5 separate regions of the Homo sapiens genome follow, and all the other regions are linked to region 3. A link means that fine-mapping ties the variant in region 3 to the plasma level of a protein whose gene starts in the linked region. Region 3 holds a variant in brackets. A gene starts in each other region. All regions are shown on their forward strands.

Region 1 (4,489 bases), not on the chromosome of region 3:
TCCAAGGGCTCATTATCATCATGCCTAATTTTTAAACAATCAACTGATGCTCAGATTATTTAGACCTGATGCTCAGCCCAAGAGATGGTAATGTGTAATTTTTGTCAGAGTATTTATCCAAATTATCTTCATTATCTGCTTGTTTATTTTCCCTTCTCTATAATGCAAGCTCTATGAGACCTAGGACTTTCCTTATGTTCACCATATATCCTCCAGGACCTATAACGGTGAATGGCATATAAAAGATATTCCTTTAATGTTCACTAAATATATTTGTGTTGTATAATGAATTAATTAAAGAACTAGGTTAATAATATAGGAATAGAAGGATAGAGATTTGAGAAATGGGTAATGAAGAGAGAGAGGACACAAAACTGGCAGGTTTATCAATTGAGTAGGTATTCTGCATATGGGTTGATTTATTTATTCAACAGATTTTTGGAATGCCAATCATACTCCAGAGCAAGGCAATAGAAATCCAGGAGTGTGTGAGAGACAAATCATCCCTGTCCACATGAGGCTATTGGAGACTTATCCAAACTTAAGTGTTTTACTGAGAACAACAAATTATTCACCATTCACCTGAATATTTTGGCTTCCTTCATCTTTGCATTGTTTTAAATGAAGCTAATATTTTTGTGAGTGGTTTCTATATGGTCTGCATTTACGTAGGTTATTTCATATAACCATGTCAATAATCCTGTGAGGTAAGCACTAGGATTAACTGCATTTTGTAGACCAGGAATCTGGTAGCCAGTAGGTGGCAAGATGAAGTTTGAACCTAGATCCTGTTTGACCCCAGAGCCCATGTTATAAACTTTGCCCTCTCATGCTCAGGACCTGGCCATTACCCACATTGTGTGGGGCCACACTGAGATGTATTCCTACTTCAGGAATTATAGTCCATGCACCTTCCAACTGTGAGGTCCTCTTTTCTTATATCACGCCTGCTCCATTTCTGCTCCTCTAGCTCCTACTCACCTCTAAGTTTCATGAAGTCTTTACTAGCTATTTTGAATACAGTTTATTATCTGCCTACAGCATTCATTGGTAACTTTGCCTGGACAATTATTTAACTGGGAGCTTGTTGCATAGCTGCTTGAAAGTACATTGGCCTTGCTGGGAGCCCTTCTATGTCATGACTTTCCAGAACATAGACGTAGTGTCTCCTATGGACTCTAATTGCTCAGCACCTGTGCATAGATATTACTAAACACATTTGCTGAACAAATAAATAAACATATTTAATTATAATATTTAACCTTTAGTAAAAATCAACCAGTTCGCACATATGAGTTGATAGAGACTTACGTACACCCACAGGGACAAAGAGAAAGTCATATGCTTTAGATTTATCCTTGCTTTGTCCACCTACGCCTCTGCGACCTCCTCCACCCCATGTTCTTAATCAGCCAATTGCTGCAGTGGTTTGCAATTATGTACAAGAGAAAGACCTGTCTTTCCCGTTAGAAACCTTGCCTCTTATGCTGGGGACCAGGATCTGGCCTTGTCATACAAGGAATAAATACATCTCCTCTGCAGAGAGGAGAGTGGGCTCTTCTATGAGTAAGACAATATGAACAAACAAACATGAAACATTCTCTGGACTTTAAGAAGTACTTTTTAAAGAAAAAAATAAATGAAATTTTAATTGTTGTGGTTATTGTGGTTTCCTACTCTGTAAGATTGAAAATTCCTTCCAGCTGTGGCCATTTTCTTCAGCCTCAAGAGAAAGCCCTGAGCTACAGAGTAAAGTTCAAAAATACAGTCTCCTAATGTAGGAGAGAGTCTCTCAGCAGGGGCTGAGCCCCAAGAAAGGACCAGGCCTGCGGTGGAGAGAGAAGCTGTCCCGATCCCACCCAGGGCCCATGGTGAGCCCTTTTACTCACCCAGGACCAGTAATATCACCCACAGCAGCATGAAGACCTGGACCACCAAGGGCTGAGATCAAAAGAGAAGTTTCCTCAATTCCAAAACAGGTTTGGACTTGATCTTACAGTCAGGACACTGCACACCAGCTCCAAGGAGCACATCTGAGAAGCTGTGCTCTCAAAAAGAGCAGAATGCATTAGTGAATTGAAAAAAGGAAGTGGGAGTACCCGTCTTCAGCTGCTAATCACAGTTTCCTACCCGATGATCAAAGAAAAAAAAAAGTTAAGGTTTTAAAAAATCAAATACCCTTGACCCTACATTTTTGCTATTGGGAAATTACCCTGAAGGAAGTATCTGAAGAGAGTACTATAAGAACGTTTATTGTAGCATTCATTATTGCCTAAACACTGGAAACAAAACAAAAAACCATGATATGGGGACTGTTTAAGAATATTCTGATTCATCCGTATGGTGACAAGCAATCATTAAAGAATAAGGTAAATCTGAACATGCCAAGAAGGGAAGACCACCTTGTTTGATGTGAAGAGAATAAAAGTGAGATATAGATTGGTTTTGTAGTATTATCCCATTGGGTAAATATAAAAAATAGGATATATGTGTACATCAACTCTTTTAAGTATACTTTCTTCTTTTCCTGGAAAGTACACACAAAAATATTGATTATGTTTGAGGAGCAATAGGTGGGAAGAACACAATTTATTTTATGTATTTCTGTACCGTTTGATTTTTTAAAAAATTACCAGGTGAATGTATAGCTCTTATGATTTTCTAAAAGTCAAGTTTCCATCCTGGTATACTGGTCAACAGAGGTTCCTAAGACATTAGCTGCCACGAGGAGTGCCAGTTTCTTTCTTTCAAATATTTTCTCACCCTTTCTCTCTGGGCCCATACCTTGGTCTTCCTAAGGGGGCATTTAATTTTATATCTACAAATGCACATCACCTTAGGTATATTATGTCACATCTGACCCACTGCACCCTGAGGCAAGAAAACCATACAGGGGTTACAGGGGTGAATAGAGATTAAGAGGAGAACTTCAAAGGGAACACAGAATCTTTACCTACTTTTGGTGCTAAAACAAATAGTGCTGCTATGAACATTCTTGTATACATTTATTGGGGCATATGCGCACATAATTCTGTTGGGTATATATCTGGGAGTGGAAGTCCTGGCTCATAAGGTATGCATATATTCAGTTTAGGAAGTATTACCAAATTATTTTCCAAAGTGGTTGTGCCAATTCCCACCACACCCACCAACCAATGTATGAGAGTTATCATTGTTCTAAAATTCTTGCTGATATTGGTATTGTCATCTAGTAAAATCTGGCCGTTCTGCTAGAATTATCTCAATGTGGTTTTAATTTGTATGTCTCTGGTGAATTTGAGAATGAGCATTTTTTCATAGTCTAATTGGTGATGTAGATATCCTTTTTATGTGCAATCTCTGTTCAAATATTTCCTCATTTTTCTCTTAACTTTCAGTCTTTCTTTTCCTGTTTTGTAGTTATTTTAAACCCTGAATATAAACCTTTTGTTGGATATATGTATTGCAAATGTCTTCCTTCAATCTGTGGCTTGCTTCTTTGCTCATTGATAGTGCCTTTTGATGAACAACCATTCTAACTTTGACATAGTCCAGTTTATCAGTCTTCTCCTTTGTGGTTAGAGATTTTTGCATCCCTTCTAAGAAAGTTAGTCTACTCCAAGATCATAAAGATACTCTCCCAGGTTATCTTCTAGAAACTTTATTTTTTACCATTTATTTTATATTTATAAGAGCATTGCAATTGATTTTTGTGTACAGTTTGAGTGTTTATATTCACTTTTAACTTAAATACAGATAATTTATCCTGCCCTATTTATTGAAAGTTGATTTTTTCCACAGTACAGTGCAATTTCACCTTTGTTATAAAACAAAAAGCCATGTAGGTCTATTTTTGGAAACTCCTTTCTTGTCCATTAGTCTATTTTGTCTATCCTCATGCCAATACCACACTCTTCTAATTATTGTGGCTTTATAATAACTCTTATTAACTGATAGTTTAAGTCATAAAATGCTGTTCTTCTTCAAAATTGTTATGGCTATTTTTGGCTTTTTGAATTTTTCTATACATTTAAAAATCACCTTGTCAATTCCTGTCCCCTCTCTCCCCAAAAGCCTAGTAGATTTTTAATAACTGGGATTGCATTGGATTTATAAGTTAATTTGTATAAATTAGAAAAGATTTAGTCTCCCAATCCATAAACATACAATATCCCCTCATTTATTTAGGTTAACTTGACATTCTTTCAGTAATTTTCTATAGCTTTGCCTCTGGAAAGTATATCTTTTGGTAGGTTTATCCTTAGGTTATTGATATGTTTTTTATGATATTGTAAGTGACATCATTAGATTTTTTTCTAAATGTATATTGGTATATAGAAATATAATACTTTTTTGTTTTACTGACCATTATTTTTATTTTTTTGAGACAGAGTTTTGCTCTTGTCCCCCAGGCTGGAGTGCACTGGTGCGATCTTGGCTCATTGCAACCTCCACCTCCCAGGTTCAAGCGATTCTCCTGCCTTAGCGTCCCAAGTAGCTGGGATTATAG
Region 2 (4,489 bases), not on the chromosome of region 3:
TGCAGAGCCTCCAATGTCAGTCCTGTTGGGACCTTCTTCTTCTGGGATGACCATCCTCCAAGGACACAGGGACACTGGCTAGGAATCACAGAGACCAATTCCACCACAGCTAACTGGTTCAGCCTGCTTTCTTCACACGTGATGGTGGATAGATTGGTTTTCTATTCTAGTCAATTAGATTGATTGGTTGTTACTGCCTGAAGAAAAGTGTGGTGATACAGCCTCTTGGCTCAACAGGAAAGAGTGCTGGAGGCCACTGGGAAGATGCACTGGCCGGTGGAGGTAAAGATGCCATGGTGGGCAGAGCAGAAATTAGGGCAAAGGGGCAGGATATGCCTGTGTTCATCGGCACAGCATTTAGACCAGGTAAGCAAACTCTTACTGTAAGAGGCCAGACAGTAATATTTTCAGTTTTGTGGGCCATACAGTGTCTGTTGCAACCACTCAGCTCTGCCATTGTAGCCTGAGAACAGCCACATATATGTATGCAAGTGAGGACGGCTATGTTCCATTAAACCTTTATTAGACACTGAAATTTAAATTTTTTGTCATTTTCATGTGTCATAAAATAGTATTTCTCTTTTGCTTTTTTCCTACCATTTAAAAATACAAACCTCATTATCAGCTTGCAGGCTGTTTTAGCTGATTTAGATGAATAGCTCAGGAAGTAGCTCTATATGTAGTTCCAAACCTCCAGATTCCAGCACCAGCCTGTCTTTAAAACATGGGGGTTTCTTCCTGCAGGATCTCTGTATATTTGGACTCCTTTCTCCATAAGGTCCCTCCTAATGCTGTAGAGAGTCCTGGGCCCTGTAACCTCCAGGAGTCCCTGAGGCCTATGCATTTTCAACTGCAAAACACCCACCACCCCCATCTTATAGGATTTTTCAGAAGGTGCAAATATCTTTGGACCTCCAGCCTACAGTTTTTCAGGCAGATTCAAGTAGTTCAGTGGTTTATCCTGGAATATTTTCTTTTCTTGGTTTCCAAATAACCTCTCATTACCCTCATTCCCTTAATCTTCAGAATGTGGCCACTCTCAGGCTCAATGAGGCCTTTTCTGCAACTATCCAAAACTCAAGGTTATATTATACATATGGGAATCATTGCATAACCCCAACCCAACATGTGTACATGTGAAGGAAAGTGAGCATGGCAAGCCTGATATGCAGGTGCAAACGTGATATAGCCAGTAAGTGACTTGGAAGCTCTGCAGTAGGGTGGGTAACTGCAGAAGGCACAGGCCAGAAAGGCTTCATGAAGCAGGTGGAAGTGCACATGAGCCTGGAAGACCCAGTAGTATATCCATGAGGGGCAGGACTAGCCGTTGAGTGATGTGGGGGATGCATGGATGTTTAAGATGTGGTCAGTACCTTACATTGAACACAAAAGTGTCCAGTTGAGAGGATTGTGTGGGCTTTGGTGATGTACTAGATCATCAAGACATAAAAGTGGATGTGATTGATTAGCATAGGGATTTACCAGGCATTGTTAGATGCTTTATATTAGTTATCTTATAAAAAAAAATACTCCTAAAAACCTCTGAGGAACATAATATTATCCTCACTTCATAGATGAGAGAGCAAAATTTCAGAGAGGTATGGTAACCTACGAATTCACACCGCTAAGAAATCAAAACGGCAGGATTGAAATCCAGGTCTCCTTGGCTCCACAATCACCAGATTAACTAGGTTAATCTCTAGATTACTCTAAGCAATGAGAAACTGAAGAAAACTAGAAAAACATTATATGAAACACTTTTCAGAGGAAACCAGACAATATGATCAATGAAAGGTGATTGTCTTGCAGTTCTACTTCCTTTCCTGGCTCTACTTGCTGCTGCCCGGTGCCCATTCATTTGTCTTCTTACTAATAGTACATTTAGGAACACTTATGTAAAAAGAGAAATGGGATAAACTATCATGACTCTGTCATTACAAATATAAGAAAATAGAAAAAAATCTGTTAAAGTGAATTACAAATGTGTATGGATTAAGCGGCTTTTTAAGGATTAGAATAGTTACCAAATGTAAAAAGGAGGAAGAAGCTCATCCTTGAAAAACATCTAAATCTGTTCCAGGTTGGCGGGGAGAAAGTTCTCCTAATCAAAGTGCCAGAAAACTCTGAAGCCTAAACCAACAGGTGCAGAGATACTCACCAAGGATCAAGGAGAATAGCAGAGCCATGACCAAGGCAGGTGAAGGTGATGAGCTGAAATTTAAGGCTAGAAGGAGGTCCCCAAGCAGCAATATTTAGTTTTAGCTGCAAGTATGTTAAGAGGAGGGACAAAGACAGGTCCTGAGTGCAGGCAAAGCATTATCAGATGATCAGAAACCAATAGACTCGGGGGGCAGAGCTGACAGAGCTGGACTTGCTGAAATCAGCATGTTCCAGAGGAAAGGAGGTGGCCAGAACTGGCGGAAAAATGCTGAAAACAAAATAGAAACAGGCTATCATGACTTGGTTCTGCTGTAAGTCCAGCTCCGTCTGTCTCTCCTACAGCCCCTTTGCTATGTAAACAGAGGAAACACCTCCCACAAGGAAAGGCAGGTGCCAAAAATATGGCCATCTCTCAGTAGAAGACAAGGCAGTACTTAGTCGCCAAGGATGGTTTGCAAGGGAAATAAGCCAATTTTGATTCCTTTACCCCAGAGGGAAGTGCCTAGAAAATTTGGAAGCCAGAGGCCATGGGATAAATGCAGAGTTGCCCTTGGAGGCATATCCCATAAAACATAATCCAGGGTCATGGTGCCAATCTCCACATACAGGCCTGGCTTTATTGTCTTCAAACCTGCTTTCTCACTGCTAAGCAGAGGGTCCAATATACAGATTTGTTATTTTTCTATGCTTGTGCTGGTGTATGCCCATCTTTGGAAGCTGGATGGAAACAGATCCCTGAGGTGAGGGGCATCATAATCATTGAACTCAAGTTGTCTGTAGGTCTAAGACATGATGGACAGAGATTAAGCAGTAAGACCCTCTCAGGCCCCTCTGCTTTGCTATATTATTAAGTATAGCTATGCTTCATGAGCTATTCTACTCCAGATTGATCAAGCAATCAATTTTGTATGCTGACATAATCTCTGCATTCCAAGCAGGGTAATTGTTCCTCTACAGTAATAATTTTTGCTTCTTTGTAATATTCAGGTAACTCAGCAGAAAGCTTGGTTCATTGTAGGCATTCATTTTTAATCCCACATTTCTTCATTTACTTAGTATTGTATTCAATGAAAAGTTTTTAGCACTCATGAATGCCAGGCAATGTGATGGGTGGAGGCAGTACATGAAGGAACAAGGGATAGTTTTGCACTGTAAAAATATATGGTCTAGTAATTGCAATAACATGTGGAAACCACTGTTAAGAGAGAAAAGTATAACAAACTTTGGAGGCCAGGCGAGGTGGCTCATATCTGTAATCCCAGCACTTTGGGAGGCCGAACTGGGAGGATAGCTTGAGCCCAGGAGTTTGAGGCTGCAGTGAACTATGATCAGGCCACTGAACCTCAGCCTGAGTGACAGAGTGAGATCACATCTCTAAAATAAGAAAAAGAAATGAAACCTTGGAGGAAATGGTTACTATGTTTGGAGCTAATCAGAGAAGACTTCACAGCAATGATGATACTTGAGCAGGGGTTTAGGATGAGTTAAGTGGAGAATCAGAATAGGAAAAGATTTTGCTATGCATATGCAGACAAGTGAAACAGCATTACTTATTCAAGGAACCACAGGTAGTTTGGAATGACTGGATTACAGCCTGCTTAGTGATCAGGGGCCAGGGCTTCTTGATGTTGAAAGGTAAAGACACTAGATGATATGCAAGTAGCAACAAGAGCCAGATAATGGAGGGTATATCATGAATGAGTTTGTAAATGCTAACTATTCACATCCTTCCCTCTCTAGATTCTGAAGTGACACAGTAATAGGTACAGAATTCAGAAAAGGTTCAAAATATCATCTTTACTGTTGATGAACTACATTAGACTGCCACTGGGATCTAAGGCTTTATGCATTTACCTCCATTCTTCAGGAGCTAGATGTGCACAACAGAGTTTACCCTTGGAAAAGAAAAGACTTTGTGTGGCTTGAGGGCAGACAAACCCATTAGCAAACACAGGCTTCATGATTCAGAAATATATTTTCCCCATTCCATGTGGAAAATTGAGTGAAAGAAGAAGAGAAAAGAAAAAGAAAACTTTTCCTCCCAATATAGTATTTTATGAACAGGCGTGAGAACATGAAGAAAGGAAAAGGAAGCTTTTTAGCCAGGAAGGACACTATCCCACAGGACACAAGAAGCCACCGAAGGGTGTTACACATTTAAGGTGTGTATTTTGGCTGCAGCACTGAGCAGGAATTGGGATGAAGACCAGTAATGGGTCATTAAGACCCATTAAGAGACCACTGCACCAGAGAGAGCAGAGGAGGACTTCAATAGGAGGTAGAAGAACGTACCTAAAACTTACTGTGTTTGGAGGATAAAAGTTACTTA
Region 3 (4,489 bases):
AAAGAAAACCACAGGCCGATATCCCTGAGGAACATAGATGCAAGATGGATTACAGATTTAAATGTAAGACCCTAAACTATAAGAATCCTAGAGAAATCCTGGAAAATACCATCCTGGACATTGGCCCTGGGAAAGAATTTATGACTAAGTCCTCAAAAGCAATTGCAACAAAAACAAAAATTGACAAGTGGGATCTAATTAAATGAAAGAGCTTCTGCACTGCAAAATAAACTATCAGTGTAAACAGGCAACCTACAGAATGGGAGAAAATGTTTGCAAACTATGCACCCAACAAAGGTCTAATATCCATAATCTATGAGGAAGTTAAACAATTCAAAAAGCAAACAACAAATAACCCCACTAAAAAGTAGGCAAAAGACATGAACAGACACTTTTCAAAAGAAGACATGCAAGCAGCCAACAAACATGACAAAATGCTCAACATCACTGATCATCAGAGAAATGCAAATCAAAACCACAATGAGGGACCATTTCACACCAGTAAGAATGGCTATTGTTAGAAAGTAAAAAAACAACAGATGCTGGTGAGGCTACAGAGAAAAGGGAACGCTTATACGCTGTTGGTGGAATGTAAATTAGTTCAGCCACTGTAGAAAGCAGTTTGGAGATTCCTCAGAGGACTTAAAACAGAGTTACCGTTCAGCACAGCAATCCCATTACTGGGTATATATCCAAAGGAAAATAAACCGTTCTACCAAAAAGATACATACACACGTATGTTCATCACAGCACAATTCACAATAGCAAAGACATGGAATCAATCTGGGTGCCCATCGATGGTTGGATAAAGAAAATGTGGTAAATATACACAATGAAATACTACACAGCCATAAAAAGAAAAATACGTTTTTTGCAGCAACATGGATGCAACTGGAGGCCATTATCCTAAGTGAATTAATGCAGAAACAGAAAATACCACATGTTCTCACTTATAAGTGAAATGCTAAGTGTCGAATACAGATGGACATAAAGACAGGAACAACAGACACTGGGGCCTACTAGAAGGGGGAGGCAGAGAGAGAGGGCAAGGGCTGAAAAACTACCTATTGGGTGCTATGCTCACCACCTGGGTGACAAGACCATTTGTACCTCAAACCTTAGCATCAAGCAACATACCCATGTAACAAACCCTACACATGTACCCCCGGATCTAAAAAAAAAAGTTGAAATTATAAATAAAATAATAATAGAAATAAATGGAGTCTGCAGCACTGGTGGAGGGCAGGTGGTGGCTGCTGCTCAGGTGCTCACACAGGTGGGTCTGCTGCTTACTTGTGCCTGTGCTTCAATGACTGGCACAGCCTCGGCAGCCTCTAGTGCAAGGCTCTTCCTCACACGGCAGGTCCTTTCTCCTGCTTTCTTCTTGTCCACAGACTTCTGGAAATGTTGCCTACATTGTTTTTTTTATCCTGGGATGATCTCCCTGGCTTCTGGCCATTTGCTTGGACTCTGGGCTTCATGCATTGTGGACTCTCCTGTTCTAGGCCTGGCATCAGGCCTCCCACGCTTTCTCACCCTGCGTGACACCATGCAGGTTTGCCTTGGGTGGCTTACCTGGACTTGCTTCTGAGCCTCTGTGCTCCAATCCTTGGTACCTTCCCGAGTTGTCTGAATTGTTTTCAACTTCTCCACTCCGCTGTCTCCTGAGCTCTGGTGGAAGGTTCACTGGGCTCCTGAGCTTGTTCTCAC[A/G]GAAGTATGCACATTGCTTAGGGTGCTGTCCACAGATGGAGGCACAGCTGATGCAGTCCCTCAGGAGATGGTCATAGAACTTGCCTTGCTCCTTGCGGCAGCTGAGTGACCCTGGGAGAGAGAAATTCATGATACTGCTGGGTGACACAGACTAGCAGGAACTCTGGGTTTGACCACAAAGGACATCAAAGTTAAAAAAAAAAATACAGTAAAATTCCAGAAGGCAATTCCAGAGTAAGCCAAGTACTTTTACAATATACACATTGAAGACTATGCATTGTCCTCTAAGTACTATTTTAGCTGCATTGCATTTTGATGTGTAGTATTTTTCCTCTACCTAGATCAAAATGCACTTATTTTTCATTATTATCTTTTCTTTGACCTATGGGTTATTTACAAGTGCATTTCTTAGTTTCCAAACGTATGAAGATTTTCAGTTATCATTTAAAATTTAGATCTGGATTACATTGTTACATAAGACTTTTACTTGCATTTTTCAAGCCTCATCAAGGAGAAATATATTTCAAATCAGCATAAGGAAAGAAGGGGAAAAGCCAGAATCCTCTTTGACAAGCTGGGGGAGGGGGCTGGAAGGAAGGTGGAAAAGTTCACATGAATAGTGTTTCTTCTGTCTTAATACTAGATGAGAATTACAGCAGCTTACACAAGTATCAGTGCCAAGGCACAGAAGCCAAGGAAACTAAAGCCAAATCACACTTGCCTTAAGAGAGCACAGTGGACCCAACTTTGAATGCATAAAGAAACCTATTTGGAACAATCAATTATCTTATCTAAAGTCTCAGAATATTTCTAATTTTTTTTTTTTTTTTGAGAAGGAGTTTCGCTCCTGTCACCCAGGCTGGAGTGCAATGGCACGATCTCGGCTCACTGCAACCTCTGCCTCCCAGGTTCAAGCAATTCTCCTGCCTCAGCCTCCCGAGTAGCTGGGATTACAGGCGACCACCACAACACCCGGCTAATTTTTGTATTTTTAGTAGAGATGGACTTTCGCCGTGTTGGCCAGGCTGGTCGTGAACTCCTGACCTCAGGTGATCTGCCTGCCTCGGCCTCCCAAAGTGCTGGGATTACAGGTGGCATGAACCACCGCATCTGGTCTAGCCTCCGAATATTTCTACATGGAAGTTTTTACGTGAAAAAGGCAAGTTTCCTTTGTATTTAGAGTAAGGTATGGCTTTTGAGATGTCCTGACTTCGTAAATATGAATAAATAAATAAATAAATATGTATAAATAAAATATATGTGGCTCACACATATATTTTAAGGACACATTTTGGAGACAGTGCAGGATAGTGGATAAGAACCCAAATTTCAGAACCAAATTTCAGTTGGGGCCATCCCTGGCTGTACCACTTGCAGGCAGTGTGGTCTTAGCCTCTCCGTGCCTCAGTTTCCTCATTTCCAACATAGGGAAAATAACAGTACTGACTTCTTCGTAGGGTTGTTGGCAGAGTTGTAGGGCCCAGCACAGTGCCTGGCACATACTAAATGCTCACGTAATGGAAAGCTTAAGTAGAATATTCATTTGAGCCTCTTCACAAAGCAAACAGATCCGTTCTTGTGTCTTTGACAGAGTAAAGGAAGGAACTAAAAGATCACGGAATTGGGACCTTAGGGAAAACTCAGATGGCCCACATAGGGCCAGTGACCTCCCCTGCTCTGGCCCTGCCCTATCCCCAGGGCGCCCCTGAACCGCACAGAAACTGACACCTCCACTCTGCATCACACAGGGTTAGCCCAGCATTGGTGTCCTTGGGGCTTTCTGTGACCTCCTCCCCTGTTGCAGGTGGTGCTGTTGCAGGTGGTGCCTGAGTGCCCCAGCCCACTGACCCTCCCTGCCTGACCTCACACCCCTCCCTGCCTGACCTCACACCCCTCCCCTCCCCCGCCTGGGACTCAGTCCTCCCCACTGTGTTTCCCTCCTCTGAGCCTCTGCTCATAGTGCCCTTTCTTCCAGGTGCCCATCTGATTTCCGCATTCTGTGACCTCTTAACAATCTGCCTCTGATGGTGCTTCCTCTAGGGACACCTCCCTGCTCCCCAGCCCTTTAGCTGAAGGGGGTCTCTCCCAACTGTGGCTTTCTACCTTGACACATAGTCATTTCTCCCATTAGATGACACTGTCTTTGAAGGGCCACGGCAGATTCCTATTTCCATGGGGCTGGAGCACTCCATCTATGTTTGTGGGATGAACCAATGAATGTTCTAATTCATTAATGGGTAGTGGTTCAGGTCATGATTTAGGAGTCGGAGTCCTGGGTTCAAACCAGGATGTCGCTGTGACATCTCCACTTTTAAACTGGGTGATCTTGGGTGAGTCACTCAGCCTCTCTGAGTTCCCCGCAATAAGTATTCATGAAGGACTTACTATGTGTCAGGCACTGTGCTAGGCTCAAGTCAGACATGGTTCCCCTGCCAGGGAGCTCCCAGTCTAGTGGTTGAGTCAGACATAAAACACATACACATGAAAGAACAAAACAGCAAATTGTGGTAAGTTCTATCAAGGAAAAGAACAGGTTATGAAAAAGAACAGCAAGCAACGAATAATTTTCAAGACAATCAGGGAAAACTGGATATTGCCTGAGTATTAGATGATGTTAATAAATTATTGCTGGCAGTGATAGGATATTTGGATTATGTTTCACAGGTTTTCGTGGTCCAGTATCTGCAGGTAAAATTATATGAGATCTTGGCTGTGCTTTAAAATACACAAGGCAGGCTGGGTGCAGTGGCTCACGCCTGTAATCCCAGCACTTTGGGAG
Region 4 (4,451 bases), not on the chromosome of region 3:
GGAGTCCACACAGAGCTGGTGGTCTCCATGAGATGAAAACGCAGACGTGAGGAGCTCTCTCTCCTCCTGTACTCTGTCCTGCTAGATTTAAAATCTAGCTTCATGGAGAGACAGCTTCAGAAGGCAGTAAAACAACAATTTTATTACTTCATCAATGACATTCTTAAGTGAAACTGGCTCTTTTTCTTTTCTTTTATCGTCCTCTTCTTTTTTTTTTTCTTTATGCGTGGCAGTGAAAAATACTAAGATGGCTGGGTATGGTGGCTTACGTCTGCAATCCCAGCACTTTGGGAGGCCGAGGCAGGTAGATCACCTGAGGTCAGGAGTTCGAGACCAGTCTGACCAACATGGTGAAACCCTGTCTCTACTAAAAATACAAAAATTAGCAGGGTATGGTGGTGCATGCCTGTAATCCCATCTCCTCAGGAGGCTGAGATAGGAGAATCGCTTGAACCTGGGAGGCAGAGGTTGTAGTGAGCCGAGATGGCACCATGGCACTCTAGCCTGGGAAATAAGAGTGAAACTCCTTCCAAAAAGAAAGAAAGAAAGAAAAACACAATGACTACAAGTATAGATTTTCCTCCTCAATAGTACAGTTTTGTGTCCTGTATTGACAGTTGCTAAGGTGCCAGCATTTTTACCCATCATTGCTTTTGCAACATCAGTGCAAAGTCTATACAGTAGAAAAAATGAATCTTGTTTTGGTATTATTATAAAAGTTGATTTGACTTTGGAGACAGCCAAGAGGGTCTTGGGGAATCCCCAGTATCCATGGACCACACTTTTGAAAACTATTGTTTTAATAGAACCTTCTGGTCATTACTACTTTGATCTAATGGCGCCACTTTAAAGGTGGGACTGGGTGTAGGAACATCCTGCCATGGCAGCTTCATGGAGAAGATCTGTTTTGGCAATTGGGTCCTTCATTTCCTTCACATCACAGTATGGAATCTATACTATAATGGAGGTAAAAATTTCTCCACTTGAGAACAGTGTTATCACTGTATATACAACACATTTTTTCCATGATGAAAAACAGGGTCTGAAACTTTAATTAAAATGGAAAAGTCATTAGTTATCTTCCATGGGAAGAGTTTGAAGAAAGGAAAAGTTGAAGTAGGGCAAAAATAGCAGATATAAGGTATTTCTAAACGTTTCCCAAATGAAGGAAGAGAGAAAAGAATGAGCGAAGGAAAGGAAAAGGGTATTTAGTGTGTAAGACACTAGAAAAGATATGCATAAGGAATGAAGTGATACATACATAGTGGTGTTGGATTTGTAGATTCTTGGAAAGTTGGCAGAAAAGCTTACATGTAAAAAAAAAACCAATGTATTGAAATCAGTCTCACTAGCTATGTGGAATGTTTTAGATTTGTACCAGATACAATACGTTTGTGGTGGATACAGGAGATGCGCTGCCCAGATCTGCCCCCAGGGAAGGACCCTGCTCCAGCTGTTGGAGGCCGGCTGGCCCACAGCCTCTAGCAGTCAAGCTCTTTTGGCTGGAAAGCCGCTTGCAGGAAATCACTCCATGGAGGTGCAGAGATAAGGCCCCAGACATTTTGGCCCAGTATGGGACAACTTTGACCGTCTTTTTCAGCTTCAGGACTCCCATGGAGTTGGGTGAGGTTGTTGGGCCCGCTTTGCTGCTAACTTCTCCCTCTGTTCTCTCCTGTTCCCCTTCTTCCTCCCACAGGGGTTTGTCCCAAGGGCACTCCCTAATACACATCCTGCATGTTAAACTCTTGTCTCAGAGTCTGCTTCCTGTAGATACCAAACTGTAAGAACATCTTATTGACTTAAATATAACCAAAATTGGAGAAACTTAGGAAACAAAATCATCATTACGTTATGTGCTGACATTTTAGCTTATTTCTATATTTCTTGTTTTGAATTGCTCATACTTAGCATGATAGTACCTCTCACATTTTGTTTCATTTAGGTTTGCTATTTCCACGTTCTCTTTCTTATAGGAACCATATTGTGAAAAGACATAAAGGTAATAGGGTAAAAAAAAGCAAATAGGCTCTTTATTACCCAGCCACTCAGGAAATGCACTATTTCAAGGTTGACCCAGGCAGCAAGAGAGGAGCTGTATTGGGGAATGTGACAGTGGTTTAGTTCTGAAACTGGAGCCAGTAGAAAGTTCTGAAGGGGGTCCGATGATCAGAACTGTCTGTGGGTTTAATAAAGGTGTATTTAATTTTATTTAAGCCTGGAGATTTAAATTGTCACTCAAAACTCTCAGACATGAATAGGGTTAGCAAATCTGTACACCAGGAAAGGAGTTATTTACATCCTGTCTTCTCCTACAGCTCCAGAGGAGGGCAGAACAGTGTATTTCCAGGCAAGCCCTCTCTTTAAAAACTCATAGCCAAGGCTGGGAAGACAGAGTGAGTGGGTGGGCCTTCTGGCAGCTTCCTTACCTTCAAATCTTTGCTCTCTGTGAAATGGTTCTGCTTCAGTATCCTTGTTCTGATTTTTCTGGGAACTAGATGTTACTGGGAGATGACTCAGAGCAGGCCAAGCCCTGATCCTCACTGTGGAAGCAAAAGAGGCTGGTGAAAGTCACTGTCCTGACAACTTGGACCAGAAACCTACAGACAAAACTGAAATGTTTTCCTGCCCTAGGATTATCTGGATAACAATGACCTTTGATGTTACAAAGTAAATAGAATTGTGTTTGGCTTTTCCTTTTGGGGCCATGCCTTGGAGAAGATGACTCCTTCAGAGCCGCTGTGAATATTGTAGATCTCATTATTTCAGATAATTACTTTGACCATCCTTTTCAATTTGAGAGTATGATGTGAGGCAAGGCAACTATTTGTGAGAAAAAAGAGAAAAGGCAAAGATCCACTGTCATACTTTTGCTTGTGGGTTCCAGTCCAGGCTTTCTATGGGGGGTGGGGGGGTGTCTCAGTCTCCCCGTCTGTAAAATGGGATTAGTGGATTAAATCCGGGAAGGTTGGACAAGCACCTAGGACGGTGCCTGGTGCCGTGTTCAGCAGACGTCGATTCCCTGTCCACCCCTTCTTTAGGAGCTGTGGGAAACACTTCATAACTCCCCAGGGTCTGGTGAACCCTTCCTCCCTTTTCTGTTCCCTGTTTTGGCATTGGAGATCATAAAAAGGCTCTTCCATGTCTCTTGCTTCCTTCCTTTCATCTTCTCCAAGAGAAGGAAGTGGCCGCCTTTGTTAGCTTGGGTTCAGAAGCTTGTGTCTGTCACCCAGGGCCGCCCAGCCCCGGGGTTTGCGAAGGTCCGGGGTAGGAGGGCTGCAGCCTGCGCGACGCGGCGGGAGGCTACCCGGGGGCGATGGGAAGGCGGGCGCAGTCGACCCAAGGGTGGAGAAGAGGGAAGGCGAAGGACGCGCGTTCCCGGGCTCGTGACCGCCAGCGGCCCGGGGAACCCGCTCCCAGACAGACTCGGAGAGATGGCAGGCGGAAGACACCGGCGCGTCGTGGGCACCCTCCACCTGCTGCTGCTGGTGGCCGCCCTGCCCTGGGCATCCAGGGGGGTCAGTCCGAGTGCCTCAGCCTGGCCAGAGGAGAAGGTGAGGGGCTGTTTCTGCGTAGTTGTACTTGAGCGGCTCTGGTCCGATGCGAGGACCCCTGGCCGGGTCAGCCCTACCTAGGCAGAGCGGGAGGCGGGGCAGGGCCACGGTCCCCAGCCCAGGCACCGGCGCCCCACCCGGCGCCCGGAGGAGTCGGGGCTCTGCATACTCGCCGGGGTGCCTCGGCCAGTCCGGGGCTGTTCTGGAGACGCCAGGGGGGCTGGGTGATGTCACTGGCCTCTCCTGGGCTGCGGTCTGATGGGGGTGCTGATAGGCACAGGAAATGTGTCTCGCCGGCGGCTGCTGAGCCGGGAGGCGAGGGCGCATCGCGGCGCCACCCCCCACTCGGGACCCTGGAGGGCAACGGGGCCGGCGCTCCGGGGCCGCTAGGGTGCGGGGTGCGCCTGGGGGTGTGCCCACAGCCCCCCCGCTGCTTCATCCAAGGATGCTGCTGGGGCGCTGAAGTGTCCCTACAGTCTCAGGACGGATGTGTGTTGTTTGTTTTAGATTTTTAAAAGGAGCAACTCGGCAGGAAGGACCTTTACTGGAGACCTGCTTACTTCAAAAGCCTTTTTCCTCCACTTAAAAGAGGGTACCTGCTATTTTCAGAGAAAATGGATCTAGTTGTAGGTAGAAATCGCATATAAGGAACTTAGGATAAAAGTGATTTGCAAGTTCCCTCTGTAAGAAGTGTATGGGTTCGGCCGGGCGGGGTGGCTCACGCCTGTAATCCCAGCACTTTGGGAGGCCGAGGCGGGTGGATCACGAGGTCAGGAGATCGAGACCATCAGGGCTAACATGGTGAAACCCTGTCTCTACTAAAAAATACAAAAAATCAGCCGGGCGTGGTGGCACGCACCTGTAATCCCAGCTACTCGGGAGGCTGAGGCAGGAGAATGG
Region 5 (4,427 bases), not on the chromosome of region 3:
TGGAAAAGATCAACAGGTTTCAAAAAGGTAAACCAAGATGGTGAGAGAGTTTCAAACTGTTATCAATTCAAAGAAATAGGAGTATTTACTTTTGAAGTGGGTTTTGGAGTGGAAGTTAGTAAGATCTTTTATGGATGGATGGACAGATGGATGGATGGGGGTGGTGGATGGATTGAAGAGTTAAATCCCTAAACACCTCACTTTGAGAAATGTAGAAGCAATGGAGCAGTTTTTTCCCAAACAGATTAGATAGTCAGACAGACAGGCAGGCTATTTATTGAATACATTCTACATGCCAGTATTTGGCCGAACCCTCTACATATACCAGGTGCTTTCTTCTCCAAACAACCCTTTGGAATTCCTATTATCCTCATGTGGAAAGTGGTAAATATGAGGCATAGAGAAATTAAGTGACCTGTCCAAAGTCATTGCCAGGCTGAGCTCAGACTTTGTGCTGTTAACCTCTAGTTTATAACCCTGAGTGACACTCAAAGGTGGCCTACTCAACTCTCTCTTAAAGAAATAACTTGCTGGCCAGCGGCAAGGAGTGCAGTTAGCTGACAGCCTCTACTGATAACCTCCTCGGGCTCTGCTTCAGCTTTCAACCAGAGACCATGTTGTTTCTGAGGAGGCCCAGCTAAGGACCGAGCACGGTTGGGGTAGAAGAGTCTGAACATTTCTGCCCACCATGGGCCCCTCTAATAAACAGTCTTTCCTCTGGAGCTCCCCACTGAGCTGTTGTAGACTTCACCAGATCAGCATTGCAATCTGAGGCTCCCCCTGCCCAATTCAGCCTCCTTCCTCCTTCTGTCTATCGCAGGAGTTGTTCTGAATAACCTTCTTTTACTCCAATGTCCATCTCAGCATCTGCTTTGCAGAGGACACAACTGGCACACCCTGCCTTCATATATTTGGATTGCCATCATATAGAAGACTGTTTAGAATTGTTTTGTGTTGTGATAAGGGGTTGAATTAGGACAAAATTCAACCCCTTATCACAACACAAGCATAAACAAACTGCTAGGGAAGCAGCTTTCACATATACATAAGGAAGAACATCGTAACAACTAGAAGTGCCAAACAATAGAATAACCTGCCTCAAGATCAATGAGTGCCCTGTCACTGCGTTCAGGCTGACTGGAGAACTGCTTTTGTGTGAAGGTTGTGTGGCATTACCACTCCTCCACTTCTACCCCCATGAATACTGAGGCACCTGGGATGCTAAACATCCACAATGCTAATTGATTAGCAAAAACCAAATTGTTTAGGAAATCGCGCCAGGAAGCCCAAACCTCTGATTTCTTAGCAGATCAGTGGGTCTGGTTTGATACATCATCCTTGTCCACTTCCAGGGCAGTTTAGTGGTACTCTAGGCCAGACTAGCCAGTCTACATACTTTTTTTTTAATCAAAGAGCTTCTAGAAAATGGGATAAGCTGTGGGCTGATTGTCCCCATGGACTAGTTGGTGGGATCAAAACCTAACTTCACATATGTTTATGTCAGACTGTAATATGGGGTTCACCCTCTAATGCAGTTCTAATGACTCCCTCCCCTGCCACATGGTTCTCAAGCTCATGGACTTGCACACGACAGCCAGAGAGATTCTCTTCCTCAAGGCTGTTGTCTCCCTCCCTTCATGCAGACACAGGCACACAAAGCAGGGGACTCCTACTGCCCCCTTCTAAGAATTCCATGATGGTCAGATTATATAAGTAATCATATATTTCAGATAGCAAAATAAGAGATGGAAAAGACTGGTAGGAAAATCAATAGCATAATCAGCGTTAGGATCTGTATATAAAGAGACATTCATTTGCTGTGCAAATATTTACTGAGCACCTACCAAAGGCCGGAATCCCTTCCACATGCTAGGGACGTGATGCGCTCGACGGAGTCCCCAATGTCATGGAGTATATATCTAATGCCACTGAGAAACCTGGCTCACCCTGCACTGAGAGAAGCACTCAAAACCACCATCACCAATAGCGCTACTAAAGACAGTGCTTTGGAGCTTCCAAGCTGATAGATTATCCTTTCTCCCCACCCTCAGATTTCTCCAGTGTCTCTGGCACTTATAGTCCATGTTTGCAAGAAATATTTTATTATAGTGCTCTGAAACAAATTTATAAAGTTTGCAAGAGAAGTTTTAAAAAAGCAAGCTCAGCAATATTTGGGGGCTTTTAAAGCTGATGATGCAGCTGACCTACTGGAGACAAAGGCAGTGGGAGGGCCCTTACTGGTATAAATAAATAGGAGTCTCTGGTACTGCAAACCCACAGCCTGGACTCAGAGCTCAAGTCTGAACTCTACCTCCAGACAGAATGAAGTTCATCTCGACATCTCTGCTTCTCATGCTGCTGGTCAGCAGCCTCTCTCCAGTCCAAGGTGAGAAATTTCATTTACATTTCACTGTTTGTTGAACAGAAATAGTCTTTAACCACTTCAATTTTCTTTCGATTAAAAACCGCAGGGAAGTCTGACTAAAGGGGGAAAAAACTGCTCTGTTCCTTCTAGATTTCTCAAAGTAAGGTGTTTAGGAATTTAACTCTTCAAAACTGGAAGTATTTATATTGTTAAGATTTTTATTTATAGCAAAAAGAGATACCACAAGTCCAATATTCATGTGAATTATATATTCCCAGCCTTTTTCTGATTCAGCTCCTGCTATATATAATTCTTTACATGTAGCTCTTCTTTGTTCTGCCTCTCAATGTTACCCACTCTGACCAAACCCTATACAGGGTTTAAAGATTATTGAACTCTACTGGTCTCTTGCAGTGAACATGCTTCATGTAACTCCAAATGGTTAGATCTGACATCAAGTACACCACTGTCAGTACACCAGGGGTATTTACACACATTCTGCAAAGAAGCAGACTTCCATGTCTAAGTGGGGCAGCTATCTTTGTGTCAATAGATAAATATCCAGTTGAAGTAGTAAGTTTTTATGTGGCCGAAGAAATGGATATGTGCAGAAAGAAGCCTTCTGCTCAGATTTAGAAGGCCAAATTTTTGTTCTTAAAACACAGAGGAGCTTTGTCCCCCAGTTTTAATTTTGCTTCACATGTTATTTTCACTCTTCAAAACCCTAATTTCTTGCATTCTCCACGGGGCTTTCCCATGGCTCCCGGCAGAGGTAGCTCTTAGTACATCTTCTGTTCTCAGCATGCATGTTAGATTTTGAGCGTAATACAACCTTCTGTGGTATTTTAGTTTTTGTTTGCTTGTTTCCCCTACTAACTTGTACACACCTTGAGAGGTGAGCCTTTTTATTTATAAATGTATGTCAAGCACAGTAGTAGGCTGGATAGAAAAGATCTGATAAATGTCTTTGGCTTAGATTTCATTAGATCCCATTAAAATTCATGAGATGGATACTAATGGTACCCATCCAGTATTAATTGCTTTTGTTAAATAAAAAGACTTTTGAATTTTTATGATTGCCTTTTGTTCTGTAATGATTTGCAACCCAGACAGAGGACCAACATATCAAACAAAAACGTCTGTGACATTTTCTGAGAGGAAAGGGGAGGATGGCAGAGAGTCTGATAGAGAAAACTCTGTTCCAGCATGTTATTGCTCCCAGGACTCTTGAGCCAGGTCATGTCCTCGGTTTTTATGTGTTGGGAGTGAAGATAATCCACTGGTTTTATATTGCATTAATTATAACTGAGTTGTAAGTCCCTACAGAGGCTGTTCTCAAATTTTATTATGTGGACTATCACCTGAGTACAAATATAACACTATCACAAATTTCAAAATTGCTGTGTTTTTTTGAAAGCTAATTTTTGTTTTGTTTTCTTTTTGCTTTGTTTGTTTGCTTTCTGAGATGGGGTCTCCGTTTGTTGCCCAGGCTGGTCTCAAACTCCTGGGTTCAACCAATCCTCCCACCTTGGCCTTCCAAAGTGCTGGGATTACAGGTGTAAGCCACTGTGCCTGGCCTAAAAGCTAACTTTATTTTTAAAGTTTTGGTAGAAAACATTTGAAAATACTCAAGCCAAGACAAGCAGAAATATACAAACTAAAGACATATGGGTGGAAGCACTGACTTGAAACTTTTAAGTCTTCAAATGCACGTTATGAAAGATTAGTAATTAAATTCTAGTTATGAATTACATGCCAATGGATTAAAATAACTGATTCTGTGTTTACTTACAGGTGTTCTGGAGGTCTATTACACAAGCTTGAGGTGTAGATGTGTCCAAGAGAGCTCAGTCTTTATCCCTAGACGCTTCATTGATCGAATTCAAATCTTGCCCCGTGGGAATGGTTGTCCAAGAAAAGAAATCATGTAAGTTTCAAGAGAAAAATAAATAAGATTTCCTTCTCCCAATGAAATCAGATCAAATGTTACCATACAGTAGTCTTACTCAAGAATGTCGAAGAGATTTACTTGAGTGTTGCTAAAAATTCTCAAACTAATAAT

Alleles and levels. Alleles are on the strand shown, and positions count from the first base shown. The strength of an association depends on the size of the effect and on how common the allele is.
For the plasma level of the protein whose gene starts at base 2,073 in region 1, A is the high allele of the variant in region 3 and G is the other (weak association).
For the plasma level of the protein whose gene starts at base 2,293 in region 2, allele A in region 3 goes with a higher level than allele G (weak association).
In carriers of allele G in region 3, the plasma level of the protein whose gene starts at base 3,330 in region 4 tends to be lower than with A alone (weak association).
In carriers of allele A in region 3, the plasma level of the protein whose gene starts at base 2,277 in region 5 tends to be lower than with G alone (weak association).

The links. PIP is the posterior inclusion probability: the model's chance that the variant is causal. Protein levels are from antibody-based Olink assays in UK Biobank. Linkage for the fine-mapping came from a reference panel and not from the study's own genotypes, which makes the PIPs less certain.
Region 1: FCRL5 starts here. The variant in region 3 is fine-mapped to the plasma level of the FCRL5 protein (UK Biobank, PIP above 0.99).
Region 2: CD5L starts here. The variant in region 3 is fine-mapped to the plasma level of the CD5L protein (UK Biobank, PIP 0.99).
Region 4: QPCT starts here. The variant in region 3 is fine-mapped to the plasma level of the QPCT protein (UK Biobank, PIP above 0.99).
Region 5: it holds the start of CXCL13, and the variant in region 3 is fine-mapped to the plasma level of the CXCL13 protein (UK Biobank, PIP above 0.99).

The regions. Positions count from the first base shown.
Region 1 is chr1:157,550,443-157,554,931 of GRCh38, forward strand. It overlaps FCRL5 (Fc receptor like 5), which reads right to left and starts at 2,073. Exons shown (of 17, transcript NM_031281.3): 1 at 1,890-2,073. The coding sequence starts at 1,920.
Region 2 is chr1:157,839,516-157,844,004 of GRCh38, forward strand. It overlaps CD5L (CD5 molecule like), which reads right to left and starts at 2,293. Exons shown (of 6, transcript NM_005894.3): 1 at 2,159-2,293. The coding sequence starts at 2,186.
Region 3 is chr17:16,947,163-16,951,651 of GRCh38, forward strand. TNFRSF13B (TNF receptor superfamily member 13B) reads right to left here. Exons shown (of 5, transcript NM_012452.3): 3 at 1,576-1,821. Among named protein-coding and RNA genes, the nearest start is that of TNFRSF13B, 23 kb to the right of the region's middle. The variant A/G (reference allele first, on the strand shown) is at 1,711.
Region 4 is chr2:37,341,301-37,345,751 of GRCh38, forward strand. QPCT (glutaminyl-peptide cyclotransferase) reads left to right here and starts at 3,330. Exons shown (of 7, transcript NM_012413.4): 1 at 3,330-3,551. The coding sequence starts at 3,432. LOC124907754 (a long non-coding RNA gene) reads right to left here and starts at 3,755. Exons shown (of 2, transcript XR_007086284.1): 1 at 2,427-3,755. RefSeq lists a silencer at 3,701-3,760.
Region 5 is chr4:77,603,544-77,607,970 of GRCh38, forward strand. CXCL13 (C-X-C motif chemokine ligand 13) reads left to right here and starts at 2,277. Exons shown (of 4, transcript NM_001371558.1): 1 at 2,277-2,386; 2 at 4,160-4,292. The coding sequence starts at 2,323.